3 separate regions of the Homo sapiens genome follow, and regions 2 and 3 are each reported to be linked to region 1. The links are microRNA targets in miRTarBase. Many come from high-throughput screens and were not tested one by one. Region 1 holds a microRNA gene; each other region holds the end of a gene's coding sequence.
What was found. Region 1 holds the annotated microRNA hsa-miR-3689a-3p (CUGGGAGGUGUGAUAUCGUGGU, at 1,201-1,222, shown strand). A microRNA usually pairs through its seed, bases 2 to 8, with sites in the 3' UTR of a target mRNA and lowers its output. Matches are read on the target gene's strand: a 7mer-m8 pairs with bases 2 to 8, a 7mer-A1 pairs with bases 2 to 7 and ends in A, and an 8mer does both.

Region 1 (3,693 bases):
CTGGGAGGTATGATATCATGGTTCCTGGGAGGTATGATATCGTGGTTCCTGGGAGGTGTGATCCCGTGCTTCCTGGGAGGTGTGATCCTGTGCTTCCTGGGAGGTGTGATCCCATGCTTCCTGGGAGGTGTGATCCTGTGCTTCCTGGGAGGTGTGATACCATGCTTCCTGGGAGGTGTGATCCCACGCTCACTGGGAGGTGTGATCTCACACTCGCTGGGAGGTGTGCTATCGTCTTCCCTGGGAGGTGTGATCCTGTTCTTCCTGAGCGGTGTGATCCTGTGCTCCCTGGGGGGTCTGATCCTGTGCTTCCTGGGAGGTGTGATATCATGGTTCCTGGGAGGTGTGATCCCGTGCTTCCTGGGAGGTGTGATATTGTGGTTCCTGGGAGGTGTGATCCCGTGCTCCCTGGGAGGTGTGATCCCGTGCTCCCTGGGAGGTGTGATCCCGTGCTCCCTGGGAGGTGTGATCCCGTGCTCCCTGGGAGGTGTGATCCCGTGCTCCCTGTGAGGTCTGATCCTGTGCTTCCTGGGAGGTGTGATATCGTGGTTCCTGGGAGGTGTGATATCGTGGTTCCTGGGAGGTGTGATCCCGTGCTTCCTGGGAGGTGTGATCCTGTGCTTCCTGGAAGGTGTGATATCGTGGTTCCTGGGAGGTGTGATATCGTGGTTCCTGGGAGGTGTGATATCGTGGTTCCTGGGAGGTGTGATATCGTGGTTCCTGGGAGGTGTGATCTGGTGCTCCCTGGGAGGTGTGATCCCATGCTTCCTGGGAGGTGTGATCCCGTGCTTCCTGGGAGGTGTGATCCTGTGCTTCCTGGGAGGTGTGATACCATGCTTCCTGGGAGGTGTGATCCCACGCTCACTGGGAGGTGTGATCTCACACTCGCTGGGAGGTGTGCTATCGTCTTCCCCGGGAGGTGTGATCCTGTTCTTCCTGAGAGGTGTGATCCTGTGCTCCCTGGGGGGTCTGATCCTGTGCTCCCTGGGAGGTGTGATATCATGGTTCCTGGGAGGTGTGATCCTGTGCTTCCTGGGAGGTGTGATATCGTGGTTCCTGGGAGGTGTGATCCCGTGCTTCCTGGGAGGTGTGATACTGTGCTTCCTGGGAGGTGTGATCCCGTGCTCCCCAGGAGGTCTGATCCCGTGCTTCCTGGGAGGTGTGATATCGTGGTTCCTGGGAGGTGTGATATCGTGGTTCCTGGGAGGTGTGATATCGTGGTTCCTGGGAGGTGTGATATTGTGGTTCCTGGGAGGTGTGATCCCGTGCTTCCTGGGAGGTGTGATCCTGTGCTTCCTGGGAGGTGTGATCCTGTGCTTCCTGGGAGGTGTGATCCTGTGCTTCCTGGGAGGTGTGATATCGTGGTTCCTGGGAGGTGTGATCTGGTGCTCCCTGGGAGGTGTGATCCGGTGCTCCCTGGGAGGTGTGATCCTGTGCTTCCTGGGAGGTGTGATCCTGTGCTTCCTGGGAGGTGTGATATCGTGGTTCCTGGGAGGTGTGATCCGGTGCTCCCTGGGAGGTGTGATCCAGTGCTCCCTGGGAGGTGTGATCCCGTGCTCCCTGGGAGGTGTGATCCCATGCTCCCTGGGAGGTGTGATCCCGTGCTCCCTGGGAGGTGTGATCCCGTGCTCCCTGGGAGGTGTGATCCCGTGCTTCCTGGGAGGTGTGATCCCGTGCTTCCTGGGAGGTGTGATCCCGTGCTTCCTGGGAGGTGTGATCCCGTGCTTCCTGGGAGGTGTGATCCTGTGCTTCCTGGGAGGTGTGATCACATGCCTGCTGGTGATAGAGAGGCACAGCTCCCCATTGGGGAACAACCAGGACCCAGCCCTGGGAGGTGTGGATTCAGGAGGGCCCCAGAGGCCTGCATGAGCTAGTGAGAGCTAGGAGGTGGTGTCCGCACTGGGAGCGGGACCCACACAGAGGGCACGTGGGGTAAGCATCAATGAAGTTCCGGGTGTCAGCCAATTGCACCCTCCCAATGGCCCTGGAGCAGTTGCAAAAGCTTCCTGCTCTCCCATCGTCCCCTTCTCCAACCCACTCCCGAATGCAGACGCCCCTGGCCCTCCTGGGTGGCCAGAGCCTGAGGACACTCACTAGGACAGCCCTGGGCAGCTCAAAGGAGCACTTTGGCCTGGCACAGGCCAGCTCCAGGGATGCCCCCACCTTCCTCCACATGCATGGATCGGGTTTCGTCACCAAGACATCTGCAGGACAGGAGCGGGGCCTCTGGCCACATGGCCAGAGTGCCTCCTCCATTCATGGGTCCCATGTGCAAATGGGCAGACAGGAGCTCTGAGCAGCAGATTCCCCGAGGCCACATGGGGCACTGGTGGCATCTGAGCCTGGGTCGCTGAGGCAGCTGTCCTCAGCCTGGTCTCACCAGGCCACAGCTGTCAGTGGGTAAACGTGTGTGCGCGTGTGTGTGTGCTCCTGCGGCACTGTGGGGGTCATGCCTGTGGCTGAGCATCTCCTGGAATTCTCTCGTCTCACTTTCGACCTCCTCTTCTCAGCAAATCCCATCAACCCCATCTTTGAAACACCTGGAGCCGGAGTGTGACCCACTCTCATGGGTCTGCACCGCCCCCAGCCTGCGTCTGGGTTACTGCCCCGTGTGGCTTCCCTCCCCATCTCTGCTCAGGCCACACCAGCCCCCTCCCACTTCCCCTTCCTCTCCCCACTCCCTCTGGCCTCTGCCCTGCTGTTCCCTCTCCTGCAAAGCCCTTCCTGCCCGCTGGGCTCCAGGCAGAGAGAACCTTCCCAGTGGCCCTGGTCACCCAGGAGAGCACTTCAATCCCCACCCCACACACACTACACACCCCATACACACAGGCACACACACCACACCCACACACACACTATACAGACACAGCACAAACCACACACACAGGCATGCACACTATACACATGCAGCACACACCACACACACAGGCACATTCCCCACAGGCACGCACACATATACCATACACACGCCAGCACACACACCACACAGGCACATGCACAAACACCACCTCCACACACAGGCATACACCACACACACACACACCACACACACCACACACACAGGCACACACACCACATACACAGGCACAGCTCCCCACAGGCACACACACACACCACACAGGCACACCACACACACAGGTACACACACAACACACATACACTTCACATAAACACAAATAGCACATGCAAAATACACCACATAGCACATGCACACACGTGCCATACACACATGCACATCACCCCCCCCACACACACACAACCACACACATGCACATTGTCTCCTCCCCTTTACATTTCCTCAGGTCTCATTCCTCTGGGCACACCTTACCCCTGCCTTGTGGGTCTTGGTCAGCCCGTGTCCCCTGGAGTGGCATCTCCTTGAGGGTGGGTTCTCCCCTGCTGCTCCCGCCTGGCACACAGCAGGTGGTCAATGAACTGCCACTGAAGGAATGGGGGAATGAATGGATGAATGAAAGAGTGGATGGATGGATGGATGGATGGATGGATGGATGGATGGATAAATGATGAATAGATGGATGGATGGATAGATGAATGGATGGATAGATGGATGGACAGATAAATGATGAATAGATGGATGAATGGATGGATGAATGAATGAATGGATGAACAGATGAATGAAAGGGTGAACGAATGTGTGGATGGATGGATGGATAAATGATGAATAGATTAATA
Region 2 (3,000 bases), not on the chromosome of region 1:
GCAATAAAACAACTAATAATGATAATAAATATGATCACACTGGCTTGGCCAGGGGCTGCCTTCTGCTTTAGTCTTCCAGAAACGGTTTAGCAAAGTCATTGTGAGACTACTGTCCTGGAACCTCCACTCCTCACCTACTCGAGAATATATCAAGGCTGTCTGGGCCTCCTGCCAGCCCTCAGTCCTGTCTCCATGCTGGCCTGCCATGCGAGGGCAGCCTCCCCTTCTTGGAGGCCCGCTTCGAACCAGTCTCCTAGATCTGCACAAACCCTCCCTCCAGCCTGGGCATGACCATGTTGTAGGCCGTGCACACAATACAGCCTACCCTAGGGCTTGTCCCCTCTGTACGTGGACACCTCTTCCCTGGACTCACTCTGCAAAGGGGCCTTTAACTGAGCACCTGTGCTCTGTGCCCTCACAGGTCTCCCAGGCAGCTGCGGACCTCCTGGCCTACTGTGAAGCTCACGTGCGGGAAGATCCTCTCATCATTCCAGTGCCTGCATCAGAAAACCCCTTTCGCGAGAAGAAGTTCTTTTGTACCATTCTCTAACTCCGTGTGTGATGAAAACGCCTCCTTTTCTGACCTTCAAAGTCCCCTGTAGAGACCATGCATGCTCTAAGCCTTAGGGAGTGAGACCAACACCCATCCCTGCCCAGCCAACAGTGGCCGGGGCTTGTCTTATGTTTCCATCTGTTTTCTTCGTGGCATTCAATTTCATTTTTTTCCTTTTCATTTTCATGTTATTTTCATTATTGGCAAAGAAAATCAAAATGTTTATAGCCAAATAACAAATGTGCCATGTAAAAGTAAGTCTGGACTTAAGAGTTTAAAATTTTTAAACATCAGTTTCCAAGTTTATATCATATTAATACATTTCAGTGGATAATTTATTTTAAAAAAAAAACTATGCCTAAATATCCCTTATTTGCAATATTCAGTATCAAATTAGAGCATTTTGACCAACTGAAACATATAACGTTTTCATCTCCTTTCCTGGAGAAAGCAGCTGCAGAGGTTCTGTATTTCCTGCATTTCCATCATCCTAGTAAAAAGACAACAACCCACAGGATTGGAATGGTTTTCTTTTGTTTTTTTTTTGTTGTTGTTGTTGTTTTGAGATGGAGTCTCGCTCTGTCACCCAGGCTGGAGTGCAATGGCGTGACCTCAGCTCACTGCGACCTCCACCTCCTGGGTTCAAGCGATTCTCCTGCCTCAGCCTCCTGAGTAGCTGGGATCATAGGCACGCGCCACCACACCCAGCTAATTTTTTGTATTTTTAGTAAAGACGGGGTTTCACCATGTTGGTCAGGCTGGTCTCAAACTCCTGACCTCGTGATCCACCCGCCTCGGCCTCCCAAAGCGCTGGGATTACAGGCGTGAGCCACCACACCCGGCCGTGGAATGGTTTTCTTAGCATATCCTCCTGGGGCCGTGGCGCCCCGGCTGTGGGCCGTGGTGGATGTCCCTTGTTTCAGTGGTCCTACAAAGGTAGATGGTGGGCGGACACCGAAGTCAACTTGACTGTAAAAGTACCCCATACCGTTGACGCGCTGTGGCAGACCTGTGGGTGCGGTCTCCCCTCTCCAAATGCCACCTCTTCCTGCTCCCTCCTCTTTTGGCTCCTACTCAGTAGTTCCATTGTGGGCTGCAGTAATATAAGGACCTGTTCTGGACACAGCACTGGGCCCGCTGGGGTTTTAGTAGGGCAGCCCCTTCCCTGCAGGAGTGAGGCATGGTGACAGCAGTCCCCTATGTGCCCCCAAGTCATCTGAGCATTGGTGTGCATTAAGGTACTCAATCTTCCAACAATAAATACCATAAGTGCATGTCTGTTTTATTTTATTTATTTATCTTTTTGAGACAGAGTCTTGCTCTGTCGCCCGGGCTGGAATGCAATGGCACAATCTCAGCTCACCGCAACCTCCACTCGCAGGTTCAAGTGATCCTCATGTCTCAGCCTCCCTAGTAGCTGGGATGACAAGCACACGCCAACATGCCTGGCTCATTTTTGTATTTTTAGTAGAGACGGGGTTTCACCATGTCGGCCAGGCTGGTCTCCAACTACTGGCCTCGAGTGATCTGCCCACCTTGGCCTCCCAAAGTGCTGGGATTGCAGGTGTGAGCCAGTGCACCCGGCCGTATGTCTTAGAGTGAGGGGAAACTGAGGCACAAAGCGTTTATGTAGTTTGCCCAAGGTTACACATGGTAAGCAGAAAAACTGGGATTTGAGGGCAGGCAGCCCGGCCCCAGAGTTCCCTTAGCCCCCTGAACTGTGCTACCTTCCAGGTCTACCTGTTTGCAGGTAGGGAGACCCACAAACTATCATAACTGCACACCGTGAAGCAAACACCTTTGTTGCAGTAACCCGTGGCACACTTCACTTCCCACATTCTCCAGGAGGAAGCCGTATTCTGGTAGTTTAAGGAAGGTGATTCATGGATGCCCCAAGGAAAGGCTAGACATCGATGAATTAGCTCTTGGATTGTCTAAGATCAACCTGAAGGTCCTACCTAAACCAAACTCATATGATCCCGATGAAAGAGGAGAATACACAGTGGGAGCAGAGCTCTTTGTGTAAGTTTGTTCTATTCTGTTTATTTGGAAACTGCCTCTCTCCCTAGTTCTGAAAGAGACTTGCTGTGTGATAGAGAACAGGCCATTTGTGCCTGAAATGTTCTAACCTGCAAATTGGGTTTAATGGTAATTATCCTGCCTTTCTGTCTGGGAGGAAACAGAGATGCTACATAGATGAAAGCTCTGATTATCATTTAAAACAAATAAATGTACTAAATGCCGTGGTATAATATAGGGAAGAATGGATGACTTCAAAGAGACCATGGTTCCGTTGGAGGCATAAAATTGCCTGCAAAGAGGCAAATGTAATTTCCAGACCAATTAATGACTTGCTGCCCTCGTAAATGGATTTAGGACATCTTTGTTCCTTGCTTCTTTTGTTAAAACTCATTCTTAGTTTCATTATCAGCTCACTAATAATACCA
Region 3 (3,000 bases), not on the chromosome of region 1:
CTGGCTGGGAGCTGGGTGCTGCCCCTGCATCCTCCACCTTCAGGGCCATGAGAAGTTGCTGAGGACACTTTTTGAGGATGCTGGCTACTTAAAGACCCCAGAAGAAAATGAACCCACCCAGCTGGAGGGAGGTCCTGACAGCTTGGGGTTTGAGACCCTGGAAAACTGCAGGAAGGTACCGTATTGGGGGGAGGTGGTGGCACGCAGTAGCCCTCCAGCACCTGGGCTTTCCCTTGAACTCTTTTTGTGGTTGGTAGGCTCATAAAGAACTCTCAAAGGAGATCAAAAGGCTGAAAGGTTTGCTCACCCAGCACGGCATCCCCTACACGAGGCCCACAGGTGAGTCACCTGTGGGGAGAGGGCCAGGCTCACCATCACACTCGCCACCTGTGGGTCCAGGTGAGGACTGGCCACCTGGTGTTTTGGCAGAAACTTCCAACTTGGAGCACTTGGGCCACGAGACGCCCAGAGCCAAGTCTCCAGAGCAGCTGCGGGGTGACCCAGGACTGCGTGGGAGTTTGTGACCTTGTGGTGGGAGAGCAGAGGTGGACGCGGCCGAGAGCCCTACAGAGAAGCTGGCTGGTAGGACCCGCAGGGACCAGCTGACCAGGCTTGTGCTCAGAGAAGCAGACAAAACAAAGATTCAAGGTTTTAATTAATTCCCATACTGATAAAAATAACTCCATGAATTCTGTAAACCATTGCATAAATGCTATAGTGTAAAAAAATTTAAACAAGTGTTAACTTTAAACAGTTCGCTACAAGTAAATGATTATAAATACTACCTTCTGGGTTAAGAAAATTCCATTCAAATAACATTCTCATGTAAATACTCAAACATACAGATTGAGGCTTCCAGAAATTAATCCACTTGAGGCGTCCACGCGGAACAAGGTCTGCTGACCACAGTTACACACGTCGTGACACCACTGTATCACGGCGAATGTCGAACACTAGAGTTACAGACGACAGGCAACAAGAACATGCAGAGCCGGCCGCCAGCCAGCTCCTACGCCCCGTGCCCGCCATGGCCACAGGGGGGAGCTGCTGGGCGCGCCTCCACCTCAGCCTCCACGGGGCACCTTCCAGCCACTGCTGTGCCTCAGCCACCTAGGAGCCATCCCTGAGGCCATGGCCACCAAGACAGGTGAGGGAGGCCCCAGGGCACACAGCCCCAGGATCTTGCCCCCATTTCCAACCCTGGCAGCGCTGCCAGCCATTCTTTGGTCTTCCCACTGCTCACCTGTCCTCAGAGCCAGTACTGATCTAGGGGAGCAGGTGCCACCTCCATCTCCCAGCTGTCCCCCCACCCCTGGGGCTCCCCAGCTCTACCACCCCGGAAGCTGAGCCCTGGAGACACCCTGAGGGGCGGGCGCCACCTCCTTCCCAGAAAGAGCAGAGCAGCTGGCAGACTAGAGCTCAGCTGCTCCTGACCACTGACAACCGGGAGATGTCTCGGCAGACACCACTTATCCCAGAAAAGACCAGAGGCTCCAAATGGGAACCAAGTGCATAAATACAAATAAAAACAGAGTTTACACATCGATGACAGTAGCACAAAATATACGTAATTTCTAGATACTGAGCTAATAAATCACTGTAGTTAAAAACAAAATAGATTCACTGAAACCAAGTCGATAGTTACCTTGGAGTAGTGGACTAGCTGCAGAATGTCACGGACCCACTTCCTTTAAAACAACAGAATGTTGCTATCAGTTTGTCTTACGTTAAAACAGTTCTTAAACCACCTACTATATTAAATACATTCTAATTTGGTCACTGATGATAAAGATTTTTACCTAGACGTTTTGCACTTAAAAAATGCTATTAAAAGTCTTTGGCAAAGCCACGGTCGGGGAGAAACACGTCGGTGCCGCTTCCCACTCGTGTGCCCTCACCACCCACGTGGCCCGCGGAGAGCCAGGTCGCCGTAAACCACAGATGCCTGTTCCTGCTCAACTCCTAGGGACAGTCCCAGCCCTGAGCAGAAGGGTCAGGTCATCGCGGGGATGCGTTCTCAGTCACGTTTCTGCTGCGGCCGAAACCACACTGTCGCTCCAGGGGCAGACGGGACAGGGGACCACAGCAGAGCCGGGACCTGGGGGGGGTCGCTTCCCCCGTGTGCTCCAGGCCACTGAGAGGCTGTGGCCGGGTCCTCTCCTGTGACCTCACTGGCCACATGGATGAGCTCCGATGATAACTGGCAGCGCGGGTCAGGTGACTGCCACATACACCCGGCACCCCGGACCCTGGCGCACACACGGCCCGAGCATCTCCCACACGAGCAGGACCAGGGTGGTCACGGGTGCTGGGGAGGCAACCACTCTCCCAGTTCACTGCCTGACCCCTGCCAGGACGCCCAGCGACATCTCCAAGGAGCTACAAAGCACCATTGCCTAGGACAGCTCTGAGTAATCAGAAAACAGCTTTTTTTTTTTTTTTTTGAGCCAGAGTCTCGCTCTGTCACCCGGGCTGGAGTGCGGTGGCGCGATCTCGGCTCACTGCAACCTCTGCCTCCCAGGTTCAAGCGATTCTCCTGCCTCAGCCTCCCGAGTAGCTGGGACTACAGGTGCCCGCTCTCACGCCAGGCCAATTTTTGTATTTTTACTAAGACGGGGTTGCACCATGTTGGCCAGGCTGGTCTTGAACTCCTGACCTTAGGTGATCCACCCGCCTCCCAAAGTGCTGGGATCACAGGCATGAGCCACCGCACCCAGCCAGAAGACAGCTGCTTAAAAAAGTAATTCTAAAAGCTCTGACGTCGGATCCCCTCTGCTGCGTTTTTTGTTAGTATCAAACTGTCTTTCAGAGGGTTAAGGGAGAAAACAAAACCCATGATGCTCCTTCACTTGCTCTCCGAGGCGCAGGCGCACAGAAACAGCGGCCACGGACCACAGAAATGCAGGACGGAGCTCTCCTGCTCCCACGCCACGAGGCTGGAACATCAGCCCCAGTGCCTGGTGCACACACAGGCTCAGGAAAACTAGCTCCTTCCATCAA

Region 2: miRTarBase lists GNG4 as a target of hsa-miR-3689a-3p. Seed matches in the 3' UTR shown: 8mer at 1,352-1,359 and 8mer at 2,094-2,101.
Region 3: the mRNA of GNPTG is a reported target of hsa-miR-3689a-3p. The part of its 3' UTR that is shown has no 7-base or 8-base seed match.

Annotation. Positions count from the first base shown.
Region 1 is chr9:134,846,855-134,850,547 of GRCh38, reverse strand. It overlaps MIR3689C (microRNA 3689c), which reads left to right and starts at 1,179; the gene lies at 1,179-1,250. It overlaps MIR3689A (microRNA 3689a), which reads left to right and starts at 984; the gene lies at 984-1,061. MIR3689D1 (microRNA 3689d-1) reads left to right here and starts at 866; the gene lies at 866-939. MIR3689B (microRNA 3689b) reads left to right here and starts at 276; the gene lies at 276-423. It also overlaps MIR3689D2 and LOC101448202.
Region 2 is chr1:235,549,659-235,552,658 of GRCh38, reverse strand. GNG4 (G protein subunit gamma 4) reads left to right here. Exons shown (of 4, transcript NM_001098722.2): 4 at 422-3,000. The coding sequence ends at 550. Among named protein-coding and RNA genes, the nearest start is that of B3GALNT2, 47 kb to the right of the region's middle.
Region 3 is chr16:1,362,568-1,365,567 of GRCh38, forward strand. It overlaps GNPTG (N-acetylglucosamine-1-phosphate transferase subunit gamma), which reads left to right. Exons shown (of 11, transcript NM_032520.5): 9 at 44-175; 10 at 258-339; 11 at 430-1,546. The coding sequence ends at 524. It overlaps UNKL (unk like zinc finger), which reads right to left. Exons shown (of 15, transcript NM_001372107.1): 15 at 638-3,000. Among named protein-coding and RNA genes, the nearest start is that of GNPTG, 12 kb to the left of the region's middle.